2 separate regions of the Homo sapiens genome follow, and region 2 is linked to region 1. The links come from fine-mapping of genetic effects on gene expression. Tissue or cell type: whole blood. Region 1 holds a variant in brackets; the other region holds the start of a gene. All regions are shown on one strand. Distances are between the middles of the regions.

Region 1 (8,262 bases):
TAATCCCAGCTACTTGGGAGGCTGAGGCAGGAGAATCGCTTGAACCCGGGAGGCGGAGGTTGCAGTGAGCTGAGACTGTGCCATGGCTCTCCAGCCTGGGCAACAAGATTGAAACTCCGTCTCAAAAAAAAAAAAAAAAAAAAAAAAAAACGTAGACAATAACAAGTGTTGTTAAGGATGCGGGTAAACTGGACCCCTTGGCTGGGCATGGTGGCTCATGCCTATAATCCCAGCACTTTGAGAGGTCAAGGTGGGCTGAGTGCTTGAACCCAGGATTTCAAGACCAGCCTGAGCAATATGGCAAAACCCTGTCCCTACAAAAAAAGACAAAAATTAGCCAGGCATGGTGGTGTGTCCCAGCTACTCGGGAAGCTGAGGTGGGAGGATCACCTGAGCCCCGGGAGGTCGAGGCTGCAATAAGCCATGTTGGTGCCACTGCACTGCAGCCTGGGTGACAAAGTGAGACTCCGTCTTCAAACAAACAAACAAATAAATAAAAATTAGTACCCTTATTCATTGCTGGTGGTAAATCTAAAATGGTACAGCCACTTTGAAAAACAGTTCTTTGAAATGTTAAACATAGAGTTTTACTACAAAACTCAGCAGTTTCACTCCTGGGTATATAACCATGTTGACCAAAATTACGGGTGTTGAGGCAGAAATAATTTGATTTATTGGAAGCCAAATGTGAGGATCAACCTGGAAAGAGACATCAGCAAAGTAGGGCATGTCCCAGAGTCTACTGCAAGTTGGAAGACTCTTATAAGAAAGTTTAGGAAGACCGGGTTTAGTGGCTCATGGCTGTAATCCCAGCACTTTGGGAGGTGGAGGCAGGAGAATTACTTGAGGCCAGGAGTTCAAGACCAACCTGGGCAATAAAGCAAAACTCCCTCTCTGCAAATATAAGAATTTAAAAATTAGCCAGGCATGGTGATGCACTCCTGCAGTCCTAGCTACTTAGGAGGCTGAGGTGAGAGGATTGTTTGAGCCCAGGAGTTCAAGGCTGCAGTGAGCCATGATTGCACCACTGCACTCCAGCCTGGGTGACAGAGTGAGGCCTTGTCTTAAAAAAAAAAAAAAAAAAAAAAAAAAAAAAAAAAAGTTTAGGAGAAGAGAGGGGGACTCCTCATATTAGAGCTTTCCATTTTCTTTTTTTTTCTTTTTGAGATGGAGTTTCGCTCTTGTTGCCTAGGCTGGAGTACAATGGTGCGATCTCGGCTCACCGCAACCTCCACCTCCTGGGTTCAAGCGATTCTCCTGCCTCAGCCTCCCGAGTAGCTGAGATTATAGGCATGCACCACCATGTCCAGCTAATTTTGTATTTTTAGTAGAGACGGGATTTCTCCATGTTGGTCAGGCTGGTCTCAAACTTCCGACCTCAGATGATCTGCCCACCTCGGCCTCCCAAAGTGCTGGGATTACAAGCGTGAGCCACCGTGCCCCGCTCAAGCTTTCCATTTTCATTGGAGGTTATAATACAGAGGTTATGATCACTGGCTACAGATGACAACATATGGGCTAAAATGTTTTACCACAAGAAAGTCAGTAAAACGTCATGATTCAGAAGCAAATCTGCATCCTTTTCAGTGTTAGTGGGCTACGTATTAATCAGATATCAACACAATAAGATTGGAGGGAGTCACTCTTTACTCACAGACAGGCTATACGCCATGTATTGTGAGACCTTCCTCAGGTGGTTGATTTGGAAGCCTGCCAAATGTGACATGTGAGGTGTCACCCAGAAGAGATGAAAACATGTCCACACAAAAACTTGTGCATGCATGTTCATTGCAGCATTATTCACAATAGAGAAAGCGTACAAATAAATCCAATGTCCATCAGCTGATAAAAGGTGGTATATCCATATGATGGAATGTTAGTCATAAAAAAGAATGAAGTGGCCGGGTGTGATGGCTCACGCCTGTAATCCCAACACTTTTTGGGAGGCCGAGGTGGGCAGGTCATGAGGTCAGGAGATTGAGACCATGCTGGCTAACACATCCCCTCTCTACTAAAAATACAAAAAATTAGCCAGGTGCGGTGGCGGGGGCCTGTAGTCCCAGCTATTTGGGAGTCTGAGGCAGGAGAATCACTTGAACCTGGGAGGCGGAGGTTGCAGTGAGCCGAGATCGCACCACTGCACTCCAGCCTGGGCAACAGGGTGAGAATCCATCTCAAAAAAAAACAAAAAAGGAATGGAGTACGGATACATGCCACGATATGAACGAATGTGAAAGACAATATGCTAAGAGGGATGAAGCTGGTCACAGAGACCTGCATAGAATGATTCCATTGACATCAAGTGGCAGGCAGAGCCATGGAGACAGAAAGCAGATGAATGGCTGCCAGGGGGCCAGGGAGGAACGAATGGGAGTATTTAGACATGTTTAGATGTGCAAATCCTTACCATTGTGTCACAGTTGCCTCCAGTATTCAGTGCAGCCAACGTTGCACAGGTTTGTAGCCTCGGAGCCAAAGGCCACACCCATGCAGCCTGGGTGTGTGGTGGGTGGCACCGTCTAGGTGTGGGTAAGTGCCCGCTGTGAGGTTCCCATCACCACTGAATCGCCTCCGGACGCATTTCCCAGACCCCATCCCCATCATTAAGTTACTCGGACTGTGTTTTCATTTCTTGTCGCACCAGCCCTAAGACATAGGCCAGGCAGCTCAGAATCCTCTAGCCTTAGGGATGGTTTCATTCAGAGTCTGATGGCTGATAAGTTATAAAGCCAGGCCTCAGGCCCAACGTTCTGCTTCCTCGGCTTCACTCTGCCCACATGCTCTCTTTTGTGTGGGTGATCTTCATCTTTGATAAAAGCAGCTCTTACAGTCTAGAGCAGTGGGAATTCTAGCTAAGGCCCGTGTGGATCTGTCTCAGGTTCCATTTTCCATATTAATCAGCTATCAAATGACACCAAGTAGAAGGCCTCGGGACTTCAGGACCTGAGTTTAATTCATAGCCATTTTCTCCCAGCACCTAAAATTTGATCAGTATTATTTGTTGCCACAAAACTGATGAAACTTGGCCCCACATTTTAGCCATGGAAAGGTTAAATTATTCTTTACACTGCTGAGGTGTACACTAGTAAGACTTATTGTTCTCTACCCTGGATAATCTGCTCTAGGCCTTCACTCATGTGTTTGGTAGGAAAAGTCAACTGGTCTTATTTTGAGCAACACCGTCCTGGTCACTAGGGTTGTATGAGAGTTTCAGGGTCGTCTATAGCCTGGAACAGCTATGAAAGGGGTCTGTAATCAGCCATCCGTGCTGTTCACCATCTGTATGGTCCTATGAAGGCAAACAATTCACCTGCTTCCATATGAAGCGTAGCCTCACGGGACTTTGTAGAGATAGGAAGCCTTGGACCTGGAAGTCGGTCTTATTGGGTATCCATTCAAAGCTGTATTCCAGCAGGATGCTGACCACTGTCACTCCAGGACCACACAGGCCTCCACCCTCTGAAGGGGATTCCTTAAAGCTGTCTCTCAGCCTGGTATAATGACTCATACCCATAATCCCAGTGCTTTGGGAGGCTGTGGAGGGAGGATCTCTTGAGGCCAGGAGTTTGAGACCAGCCTGGGCAACACAGCCAGACCCTTGTCTCTACAAAAATAAAAATAAAAATTAGCCAGGCATTGTGGCACACACCTGTAGTCCCAGCTACTCAGGAAGCTAAGGTGGGAGGATCACTTGAGGCCCACAGTTCGAGGCTGCATTGAACTGTGATTGTATCACTGCACTCTAGCCTGGGCAACAGAGCAAGACCTCATCTCTAAAAAAGACTGAAAAAACCGTCTCTTGTTACTGGGCTGGCCCACTTCTTCCTCTCCAGTCCCGGGTGCCCTTCCCCACCTGAGGCTCCTAGAGGTAGGAAGTAGGTGGGCTTTCCTCCTCAACCCCCTAAAGAAGGGGGTGTCGTTTAGGAACTGGGGTCTATCTTTTAGGAACTGGGCAGCATCTGGTTTTGGTCTTTCACTACTTGAGC[G/A]CTAAAGTTTCTGGCCAGGCGCAGTGGCTCCCACCTGCAATCCCAGCACTTTGGGAGGCCGAGGTGGGCAGATCGTCTGAGGTCATGAGTTCAAGACCAGCCTGGCCAACATGGCGAAACCCCACCTCTACTAAAAATACAAAAATGAGCCGGGTGTGGTGGTGCATGCCTGTAGTCCCAACTACGCGGGAGGCTGAGGCAGGAAAATCGCTTGAACCTGGGAGGCAGAGGTTGCAGTGAGCCGAGATTGCACCACTGCACTCCAGCCTGGGTGACAGAGCGAGACTCCATCTCTAAATAAATAAATAAAGTTTCTGAAACAAGGAACACAAAGGCACGGCTACCTTCTTGAAGGGAAGAGGCTCAGTATCTACTTCAGTCCCTGCTTAATATTCCTAATGTATTGAACTAGGTTAGATTTACAAAGTACTTAGAGCAGTAACCAGCACATATAAACACTGTTAAATACATTCTTTTAGGTGTGTTCTCATGAGTGGGTGAGCAGGGATAAACCCAGAGTTTTTCACTTTTTGTCTTTATTCTCTAGAAATATTCTGAAAACATCTTAAACTCCTTCAAAATAGGGAGTATTGCCCAACTTCAGGTGCATGTACTGTGACCTAGAATATATTATTCTCTAGTTCAGTTACAAGACAGATGGTTTTCTGTTTCAGATTTGTAAATACTTTTAACGAGCTCATCACCATCACAATGAGTGGGAAAGTTTATGCAAACATCAGCAGCTACAATGCCAGCACATACCAGTTTTTTCCTTCTGGCATGTAAGTACCGAGACTGAATGCTTCACTCAAAGGTTCAAGAATTTTTCTTTAAAAAATGCATTGAAATTTTTAATGCCAAGAATGTTAACCAATATTATTCTTTATTTTGATAGAAAAGGCTTCACAATAAGCTCAACAGAGATTCCGCCACAATGTCAACCTAATTTCAATACTTTCTACCTTGAATTTGGTAGTGCTTATACCTATATAGTCCAAAGGAAGGTTAGTAACTCGTTTCATTGTATCAGAAGATCTGCTCATACTCGATTGATATGAAGACTCACAAACACTTAGGACATAATATGATTTAACTAGAGTGATATTAGGATCTGTATTTTAAATGGGCTTAGAATTAATTTGCTTGGCTAATTCTTTAACTTATTGATGACTTAATCATTAGAATCTAAACAGACTGACTTCCCCTGGATAATAATTTATGTTAACCAATATCTGATGCCTCCTTCTAGACTATTAACATGGACTTAAAGAACTCATAGTTCAAAGAGAGGGCAGTGTTTTAAAATGACTTCCAACCTACTCTCTTATCTAAAAGAAAAATCCTCCTGAACGTGTCTTCAAATCCCATTGCAAGTGTAAAATGCAGTGTTGCCTTATGTTTAAAATGTGTACGTACTTGACAAATCATATGATGTAATCCTAGAAGGTCAAACTCAATTTACCTGTTCGAACAGTTTTTATTTTAGAAGCTATCTCAACTTCTTCTGCTTTTGCCTTACTGCTGCAGAATGACAGCTGCCCTGAAGTGAAGGTGTTTGAAGATATTTCAGCCAACACAGTTAACATGGCTCTGCAAATCCCGCAGTATTTTCTTCTCACCTGTGGCGAAGTGGTCTTCTCTGTCACGGGATTGGAATTCTCATATTCTCAGGTTTCTTGTTTGTTGTATTTACCACCCATCTGCAATACCCCTGCCTGCAGAAAATGCTGATGGGACTTAATTTAAATCTGGGATAACTATATTTTTTAAAAAGTCTAGAAAGCATTATGGTATCTTCCCTACAGCAAGGTCTCTGAGGTCACCAAGTGTTGTCCTTAGTGAATAAGAATTATTACTGTCTTGAACTTTGCAAGAGCACGTGTTCACATGTGTCCATAGCCCCACAGTCATACCCTAGACATTTAGCGCCCAGTATTTATTACTGACTGCTACCAGAGTGATGAAGGTCAGCAGATTCTCCTTTCTGAAACAACCAAATGTAACCAACCATTCATAAAACAGCTCAATTACAGGTCTATGTCCTCATGATAGGTTTGGTTGAGGTCTCTTTATAGCTCCCAGTAAACATAACAAATAAGGTCTAGCTTTAAAAATTAAAAAAAATTAAAAAAACACATTAGCTGAGCATGGTAGAGCACGCTTGTGGTCCCAGCTACTTGGGAGGCTGAGGCAGGAGGATTGCTTAAACCCAGGAGTCCGAGGCAGCAGTGAGCTGTGATCACACCACTGCACTCCAGCATGCGCAACAGAGCAAGACACCATCTCAAAAAAAAAAAAAAAAGAAGAAAAAGAAAAAGTTTAAAAGAATTATTGCTTTTAAGTGTGTTAGACTAATGAGCTAGGTTTTATTGATACCCAAATTAGAGCTTAATTATTGAACTGTGTTGTCAGAGCTATAGTTATAGGCATTATAGCCCACAATGCCTAGTACCATCAATTTTTATAGTAAAGAGGCCAAGATGAGTCAGAAAATCACTTTCTGTGATAACCTCACAGTCTAATAAAGGAGATAACTGTAATACAGGTGACAGGTGTTTGAAGAGATTTTGGAGATGTGGCAGGAAAGCCACAGAAGGGCAAGCTTGCAGCCCAGGGCAGCCTGCATTTGAGGGGAAGACTATGCCAGGCTGGGTGGCTTTGCTTGGAAGCTCTCCTGTAGAAATAGGATCAGCTCCTCCGTAGATGTGTCCATTTAACTAAGGGGACAGCTTTGCAAGGATGTGGAGCGTGAAACACAGGAATTCTTGTCTACTCGTCTGTGCATGTTTGGGTGTCTTGTTACTTAAGTGATGATCCTTTTTACATTGAGGCCACCTGACTTTTCGTGTGCATTGTTAGGGTGATCTGCTTCACGAAACGCCCATCGGTGAGCTGTGTTCTCCTGCTCGGAGGGTGAGACCTGGAGCAGGACTCACTTTGCTTTGCTTCCTCAGGCTCCTTCCAACATGAAGTCGGTGCTTCAGGCAGGATGGCTGCTGACCGTGGCTGTTGGCAACATCATTGTGCTCATCGTGGCAGGGGCAGGCCAGTTCAGCAAACAGGTATGGCGTGGGAGAGGAGATTGCACATACCTCTGTCTTTCCTGTTCATGGTCATCATGGTGGCCTTCCCTAGCCATCTGTGTGCTCTGTGTGGTCATCTAGGCTAATAGCTGGATTAAACTGCCAGACCAGCCAGGGCTGTTCCCAAATAGCCTTATGGCAAAGTGTCTGCTGTTTCTTCTTCTTCTTCTTTTTTTTTTTTTTTGAGACGGAGTCTCACTCTATTGCCCAGCTGGAGTGCAGTGGCGCAATCTTGGCTCACTGCAACCTCCGCCTCTCGGGTTCAAGTGATTCTTCTGCCTCAGCCTCCAGAGTAGCTGAGCCTACAGGCACCCACCACCACACCCGGCTAATGTTTGTATTTTTAGTAGAGACAGTGTTTCACCATGTTGGCCAGGATGGTCTCGATCTCTTGACCTCGCTATCTGCCCACCTTGGCCCCCCAAAGTGCTGGGAGGTGTGAGCCACTGCACCTGGCCTGATGATTCTTCTTATTCCCACTTGTTGTTAACGCAGCTGGAAATTGACAACCAAAATAGCTGGAATGGGTTAACTTGAAGTTGCCCTTATGTGTTTTACTATCAAGGGAAACATCTCTCCTAGCTTCAGTGAATGCAGCTTAGCAGCTGCAAAGCAGACACATGTTATCCTGGAACTTTCATAACACCTGAAGTTAAAGCCATCCTAGAGTTGGTTATAAATTTTCCAGCTAAAATTAAATGAGGGCTCTACTGATACTTACACTCTTTCCTTCTGCACTGTAGCATGTCTGCCTCATAAGGGAGCTGTTATCCCATCCGTTTCATGACTTCCTGCACCAGGTCCCAGCAGCAGATGTGCTAATGCTGTGTGCTTATGAGCTCCAGGTGTTTCCAAGGAGGAACGTGGGGCTCTTAACTTGCTGGAGTTCAGCATATTCATTTTTCCCTTGTGGGGACTGCTTGCTGTTCTCTTGGTCCCCATCCTTCCAGGTCCAGCCACATGTCTTAAGGCTTCAGTATTTCAGAAATTTTCTCTCATCTTCCCAAAGTCTGTTGTTTCTGTACCTTAGTGCTGTTCAAAACATGTTGTCTATATTAGCATCTATCTATCTTGGGCATTCCAGAAAAGCTGGGCTTACTGTATCTGTATTGGTTGCTTACCAATTTTCCATAATTTAATTTCAAAGCACTCTCCATCTGCATGTAGCAAGAACATGTACGCACCATATATTC
Region 2 (8,000 bases), 110 kb after region 1:
TAAAAATACAAAAATTAGCCGGGTGTGGTGGCGCTCGCCTGTAGTCCCAGCTACCAGGGAGGCTGAGGCAAGAAAAATGCTTGAACCTGGGAGACAGCGGTTGCAGGGAGCCGAGATCTCACCACTGCACTCCAACCTGGGCAACAGAGCGAGACTCCATCTCAAAATAAATAAATAAATAAATAAATAAATAAATAAATAAATAATAAAAACAGGAAATTAGGACACAGGAACACACAGTGAAGACCACGAGAACACAGAGGGAGAAGCTGGCCGCTACAAGCCCGAGAGAGGCCTCGGAAGAAACCAATCTTGCTGACACCTTCATCTTGGACTTCCAGCCTCCAGAATGGTGAGGAAATAAATTTCTGTCGTTTTGGCCATCCAGTTGGTGGTTCTTTGTTACGGCAGCCCTAGCAAACTAAGGCAGGGTGCAACTGAAAACCTACTTAGGGTGATATCCCTGCAAGAGCCTGCCCTCTGAGCTCTCCACGCACAGAATGAAACCTTATTGGTACCATTCCTCAATGTAGCTGGGATATTTTTCTGGGGCTTTGGCATACCTTTTCTTGCTATTGTGTCATCCAACAATGACTAGACATTCTTCTTTAAACTGATCTTGATAATTTGTCTTCACCTACTGAACATGTGTAGAAATTTGTCTAAGCCTTCTGTTAGTTACTTATCCAAGCTACTCCTATTTCTCCCTTTAAAGTTCACCATGTAAGTCCCTTTCTTTAATCTCTGAATTTAAATTGCTAATGCTCTACTTGTCTAGCTGTTCTTTATAAAGCAGCATTTGGGGGTGTTTATCTTTTCAACTTAGAAAGAAAAGTGAAGGGATTGATTGTGGAATTCTTGTTTTCTGTTCCTCTCTGAGCTCTGCTGAGAGTGCGTACAAACTAGCTTAGGGGCAGCAAATACATAGGGGCTTTATATTTGGAGGGGCTCCATATAGGGGTATGGAAATATTCTTTGTGGTCCAGAATATATTTCAGATCATAATTCATTGCCAGACTGATGTCCTTAAGTGAACACAAAAGACAAAGAGGACCAGGGAAGAAAAATAATTCAATGGATAAAGTAAATAACTCAATGGGTTAGTATCTCCATGGAGACCATAAAATGCATCATCTCTATGGAGACTCTCATAATCTCCTTCTGGACTTACGGTAGTGTATAACCTGTTGTAATCATACATTGGGGGTGGAGGGAAAGTGACAAGAGGAAGAGGGTGAGAGGATGATCCTTTTCTTTCCTTGGTGGAAATGATAGCTATTGCCACTCTAAGTTTAATCAATTATGGTATTGTATTCATCCAAAGTTAGGATTCTGGGAGACCAGGTCCCTAGGATGGGTTAAGAGGCACCTGAGGATCTAATGTTTATATGCCCAGTACTGAACTGGGTATCTGACATGTATTAATAGTTGGTATTCAAAAAAGGTGTGAATGAATGAACATAATAGGCAATTGCACCGGATCTGATCCCGGGCTCAGGCCCTGTGCATCATCTCTGTTGTGCAAAAACAAATAAGGTGGAGACCTACTTCTGCCATGGGGAATACTCGGTACTACCTGCATAGGGCCAAGGAGAACCAGTAACTCCCATGTTGCTTCCTTCCCTTCTTTCGATAAGAATGGTGCTCAACAGTATGAACATTGTCAAAGGATGAAACAATGGTCAGTGTGGAGAGAAGATAAACAGGGTTCGGGGCAACAGACCAGCTAATGGATGCAAGTCACTGTGTCCAGAGAAGTTACATCCTGCCGGAATCTCCCTGTTTTGAGCCTCACTAGCCTCAGGACACAAACTAGGATTCCGGTTATTTTTTTATACCCAGGGTACTATGGGCCTTTGTCCCCCATCTGCTGTGACTTATTTGCTGGCAATTAGCCCACTGCAAAGTGATTTCTGAGCATTTACCATGGTAATGTCTCAGATCAGCATCCAGACATTTCCATCCATTCATCTAGTTTCTTGCTCTTTATCTTGGTGCCAGGTTATTGCCCTGGCTCTGCTGACCCTAGAAGAATATTTTTACTGTCCCTTTTCTATGCTTAGACATGTTTAGATCCACAAATATTTACCATTGTGTTATAGTTGCCTCCAGTATTGAGTTCAGTCACATGCTGTTCAGGTTTGTGGTCCAGGTGCAATACGTCATACCATATAGCCTAGGTGTGTAGTAGGCTATGCCATCTAGGTTTCTGGAAGTACACTCTATGATGCTCACGTGACAAAATCAACTAAGAACACATTTCTCAGAATGTATACCCATTGTTAAGCAATACATGACTGTGTGTCTGTAGGCCATATATATTAATATATATATAGTCATTTGAGATCAGTCTATATACAGTGTTTTGTACCCTGTATTTTCTTTAATAATATATAATGAATACATTTTCCCCATTACTAGGTACTGAAAGACATAATTTTAAATGACTACATAGTACTCGTATGAAAATGCTATTATTTACTTAACCTCTGTGAGACTTTTTGGCTGTTCCGTTTCCCCAGGATTCTAAACATCACTGTGTCTTCTTACATGCATTCTTCCACACTTCTTGGTTGTTGCCTTAGGATATGTTACTTTAGGTAGAATTCCTGGGCTGCGCTGAAGAATAGAAACATTTTAAAGATTCACATTCTTGCTTGTTTTGCTGTTCGCCTCTTTAGGTACCATATTTTTTAGGTGTACAAAATTTATACACCTGATTTTAAGTTCCTGGGTATCAGGGTTCATACTTCTCTTAATTTTGTATTTCCTTGCAGTCCTACTTACGGGTGGCAGGGCTCCTCAAGGGATGGGTGTACCAATGACAACCATGAAAGTATTCTAAGGTATTCCCTAGGACTCCGAGAAAAAACATGCATCTTTCCAAAGGGAAAGAAGGGATTAGATGTTAGCATCCTACTCCATGTCAGATCCAGAGCACCCGGGGGAACTGAAGTTCGTGGATGGAATACAATGACACCTCAGAAAAGAAATACTCCTTTGGTGGAGGCCTTTAAACTTTTGGGGGCTCATTTTGTCTGCCTAACTCGCCCAGCCAGGGCGCAAAATGGCCACTTAGGAGCATGAGTGAGGTGCCAGCGTCCCTACAATCTAAGGAGCAGGGAGTCATCACTGGGGTGGCTGCCGCTCTACCTGTTTGCGACTGTAATAAAACACCTTCTGGAGGCCGAGGGACCCGCTTCATCCTGACTTTTCCCCTCAGTAGCTAGAGAGAAGGCGGCTGAAAAGAGGAGACAGAACTGGTGCTGAGTGGGCCTGGAGCTTCCGAGGCAAGGGAAAGAGGGAGAGGGCTGCAGTTCAAAGTCCAGACGCGCTTTCCTTCCATTCTCTTCCCTTCCTCCCTGCCCTCTGCGCCCCATTTTCCCCTTATCGTGGGTGGGGGCTTCTGATTTGCTGCGGATCCCAGAGATGGTGGGGTTCAGCCTCCGCACTGCTTAGCTAAGTTCCCAGCCCAGCAGTCCCAGCCGGGCTGTTTTCGGTAACCAAAGCACTAGGAATTAACCTCTCTCTCGGCCTCTTCCCTTTCGGTTTCCTTCTTGGGTTGGCTGGAAACTTCACCCAGACACCGAAGCAGCTCTGCCCGGCCTTTTGGCACAGGCCACCGGCCGAGGCCCCACGGGGCGCTCTCCTTCCCCAGGTGCCCCCGACTCCGATCCTGCCCTCAGGGGCTCGCCCGGGACGCGTTTTCCCAGAGGCCGCCGGGGCGGGGTGGGCTGGCTGGCGGGAAGAGGGGGCCGCGGCCCAGGCTCGCCCCGGCGCCGGCCCGGTGGGCACGCGGCCAGCCTCCGGCCCCGACTCGGTCCCTCCCGGCGCCCGCCCCAGCCGAGGCCCCCTCCCGGCCCCGCCGCCCGCCCGCGGGGGCGTGGGAGCGCCGCAGGAGCAGCTGGGACCCGGGCCGGGCCGACAGGCGGCGGCTGCGGCCTAGGGCTCCCGCGCGGCCACCGGCCTCTCCCCTCCCCCTCCCGGAAGCGCGGGGCGGGGTCCCCGGCCGGGCCGTGGGGGCGGGCGCGGGGGCCGGGCCGGGGCGGGACGCGCTCGGCGCTCGCGGGCTCGGCGGGCTGTGCGCGCCCACTCCGGCTCCAGCGGCCAGCGCGCGCGGGCCCAGGCCGCCCGGCTCCAGCCCAGCAGTAGCGGCAGCAGCGGCGGCGGCGGCAGTGCGCGCGAGGCCCTGCGCCCCCAGCAGCTCCTCCCTGGCGCCGTGCATGGAGACGCGGCCCGCCACCCGCCGCTGAGCCCCCGCCGCCCGGCCGGGACCCGCCAGGGCTGGGGTGGCCTCGGGCTCCGGCCGGCCCCGCCGCCCGAGGGCTGCGCGCGGCCCGCGGGCCTCGCCGCCCCGCGCGGATCGTCGCGGCCCGGCCGTCCCGTCCCAGGAAGTGGCCGTCCTGAGCGCCATGGCTCACTCCCCGGTGCAGTCGGGCCTGCCCGGCATGCAGGTAGGCGGGCGCGGGCCGCGGGGCCGGGATGCGCGACCGGGGCGGAAGCAGCAACTTGGCGGTATCCACACGGCGTCCCCCTACGCTCAGCCGGCCGGGGTCGCGCCGGAGCCTGGCTCCCCGCGCGCCCGGCTCGGCCGGGGGTCCGAGTCCGAGTCCCTGGGCGTCCCTGCCGGCTCCGGCGGCCGAGGTCTCCGGCGTGTGCGTGCAGGAGCCGTAGGAACCGCGGCCTGGGTCCGGATGTGGGGGTGCGGGCGCCTAGTCCTCCGCGCTCCCCTCGCCCCAACACTCTTCCGGAGCTGCAGGCCCTGGGTGGCCCTGTCCCCGGGAGAAGTGAGGTGGAGTGATGCCCTTGGAGGCCCCCGCCGGGTCCCGGGGCCCTGCGTGGTGGCCGGGTTGGCGGAGGGCCCCAGGACGCGTCCCCCAGGCTCGTCCCCCACCCCCGGGCAGGCGGGCGGGAGACCTGGGCAGGGCGGGGACGGGGAGCGCGCCTGGACTCGTCCGGGCCCGAGCGGAGTAGGCAGGGTGGAGTGGAGGAAGGTAACCGCGAGTTCCACTTGCAGTGGCTTTGCCCGGAGCCCCCGTGCACCTGCGGACCGGGGGAAAGTGCGAGTTGCAAACCTTCTGGAAGGAGGAATCCCTCGGACAGCCGCGCACCAGGGTCCCGGGCCCGGCCCCGGGACCCTGGACTTTCACTTTGAGACTTGGTTGCATTTACAGGAATTCTTCGCCCAGTAAACCTCTCTTTCGGTACTTGGTGACACCTTGGCCTACCAGTGACTTTTTGGGGAGTGGGAGAGGAGTTGAATTTCAAATTTACATGTATAAGTTAAAGGTTTTTTGTTGTTGTTGTTTTCGTTGTCGTTGCTTTTAGCCCTTTGAAAAACAAAGCTACCGTCCTTGGCTAACTCTTGTAAACTTTGTAGGCGCAGAAATGGTGGCAAAATGCTTAGGATGGAAATCTTAGGATGCAGTTAGGATATGTCATGAAAGTTTGCTCTGCCAGTTTAGCTGAGTGAACGTTAAGTGTTTGAAGAAAACCAAAAGCATCCAAGTAGATTACTGGTTGATTTACAGGTACCAACAGGCTCCTTCCCTGTGTCTTGAGGGCTGAGAAGCACAGAGCCCAGACCTGGGACTGCCTCTGGGGTCTGCTCGCCTCTTCCAGTGAGATCATCCCTCTCCCTTCTTTTTTTGAAACCGTAAAAAGAAAACTGGATTTCACTGTTCAGGTTTGAATTCTGGAAAAATAGGAACTCAAAGTTACCACTTTAATGGCAGCTAGAATTTTAGTCCAAGTGTGTGTGTGTGTATATGTGTGTGTGTGTGTGTGTGTGTATATATAAGCAGTATATATATGTGTGTATATATGTTTAAGCAGTAAATAAATATACATTTAAGCAGCAACAGTTAAGTTATTATCTTAAGAGTGACTGGGAAGATGCTTGAAGAATATTCTTTTGTCGACTCTCATTTAAGGAGCGTTGAATTTAGCATGCATTCAAAACCTAAACTTCTGCTGACTGCTGGGTAACAATCAGATGTGGTTTCTTGGTATTTTCTAAAGCCGCTTTGGTATGAATTTAGAGGTGTGTAGGTCAGAGTGAACTGGGTGAAAAAAGTAATTTCTTACTAGTCGAGCAAGAAAGGACTCTTGTAATGATTTAAAAAAAAAGTTTTATCAATATTTCCTTTAGGTTGATATTTATACCGTGTTCATCAGGTTGGAATCTAGCACAAATGCCTCACTTACTAGGTTAATTGGCCTTTGTGGATAGCGAATCAGTTTGAAAAGGTACTAAAGCCCCTTTGGCTGGTGCCGTGAAGTCAGTATCAGATGGTTACCAGGTGATATCTAGTATCTCACCTTTTCATTTTTATCCTCACTTTTTTTTTTGAGTGGGTCAGAATTCTTAAACCTTGGGAAAAGAAGATACATTTCCTTAATAACTTTGCCTCTCAACTATTATGTATCTGTTAGGTTGTGTTACATGGGAACTGTTTTTATTTTGTTTTCTCAGTATGAAAGATCTTAAGTGTTTCTCAGTGGAAAAGATGATCAGATTTTCAGCTGTTACAGTTTTACAGTTTTAGAGGTAGGTAAGTTGGCTTCTGCCAGTCATTCCTGTACCTAAGTACATCTACAGACTGTATGGTAACAGTGTATCATTTGGGGAAGAACATTCTTTTCTCCTCCCCCACCCCACAAAAGAAAAACAACAGCACATTTATTTTCTACTTCAAATTAGCAGTTGCTACTGCCCTGGGAGGCTTCCCTAAGAGTTGTTGCTGAAGATTCAATTAAAAACACACCTGCTTTCGACTGTTGTCTGCTAAATGGGAGGAGAGAAGTCCGTATCTCTTCTATGGCTTGCTCTGATAGGCCTCATAGCCCTCCCTTTTTCTTGTCTCCTGACCAGGGCTTATAAGGAGTTGGCTTAGAAAGACAGCAGAGTCTGTAATCTCAGCAGTTTGAGAGGCCGAAGTGGGCGGATCATGAGGTCAGGAGATCGAGACCATCCTGGCTAACATGGTGAAACCCTGTTTCTACTAAAAATCCAAAAAATTAGCTGGGCGTGGTGGCACACGCCTGTAATCCCAGCTACTCGGGAGGCTGAGGCAGGAGAATCACTTGAACCCGGGAGGCGGAGGTTGCGTTGAGCTGAGATTGTGCCGTTGCACCCCAGCCTGGGCGACAGAGGCAGACTCCGTCTCAAAAAAAAAAATAAAATAAAAAAATAAAGCAGAGTGAATTCAGGTGGCCTAGGCAAGGATGCTTGAAAAATAACAACCATGTTAGTATAAACACCATTTTTCAATGTTTTGCAAATCATTTTTATGCCTCTTGATTCTTACCGGTACCGTTTGAGATGTAGATGATATTATACCATTTTGTAGATGTGGAGACCAAGGAAGACTTAACTGACCAAGGTGAGATCATATATTATGTGGCAAATTTGTGATTGGAAACTACTACTCCTCCTACTCCCACTCATCATGCAGTGTTACTGTTTTATGGTTACTTTTGCAAACATTAAAGTTTATCTCATTGCTAGTTAGATTGGCTAAAGAAATTAGAAATAGGAGGCTGATTTTTTAATTTATTCAATCAGCAACCCTTATTGAACTTTCATGTGCCAGGTCCTAGGGGAGGGGTTGAAAGTGGTAGATCTGAATGAGGTTACCATTTAAAGTAAATGTTTAATGAAAGTTGCTGAAGCCTTTGCTTTTTTTCTCTTAAACCCCAGTTTTATATTTCAGTAGGGGAAAAAAATAGACATCAGAAACTGAATGAATATAGTGACGAATAAACATAAAGAAATCAGGCTGATCTGTGGCTATAAGTACTCCGTCTTTCATTGAGCATTTGTTGTTTCACTCAATTGAGATTAAAAGAAAAGCTTCAGATGGAGGCAGGAACACCAATCGGCTTTGAGTTTGCAGAAATGTGATTTAAAAATGAGATTTTGGTTTGCACATTTCTGTTACAAAATTTTATCAGTCACTTTTCAACTTTTCTGAACCGTGACCCATGTAAGAAATATA

The links. PIP is the estimated chance that this variant, and not a neighbour inherited with it, causes the effect.
Region 2: STK24 starts here. The variant in region 1 is fine-mapped to the expression of STK24 in whole blood (TOPMed, PIP above 0.99).

What each region holds. Positions count from the first base shown.
Region 1 is chr13:98,684,976-98,693,237 of GRCh38, reverse strand. It overlaps SLC15A1 (solute carrier family 15 member 1), which reads left to right. Exons shown (of 23, transcript NM_005073.4): 19 at 4,661-4,768; 20 at 4,882-4,990; 21 at 5,514-5,657; 22 at 6,941-7,048. Among named protein-coding and RNA genes, the nearest start is that of SLC15A1, 64 kb to the left of the region's middle. The variant G/A (reference allele first, on the strand shown) is at 3,987.
Region 2 is chr13:98,573,199-98,581,198 of GRCh38, reverse strand. STK24 (serine/threonine kinase 24) reads left to right here and starts at 4,092. Exons shown (of 11, transcript NM_001032296.4): 1 at 4,092-4,454. The coding sequence starts at 4,413. It overlaps STK24-AS1 (STK24 antisense RNA 1), which reads right to left and starts at 3,944. Exons shown (of 1, transcript NR_046542.1): 1 at 2,358-3,944. RefSeq lists an enhancer at 3,379-3,568 and silencers at 3,659-3,808, 3,829-4,138, 4,189-5,058, 6,523-6,582.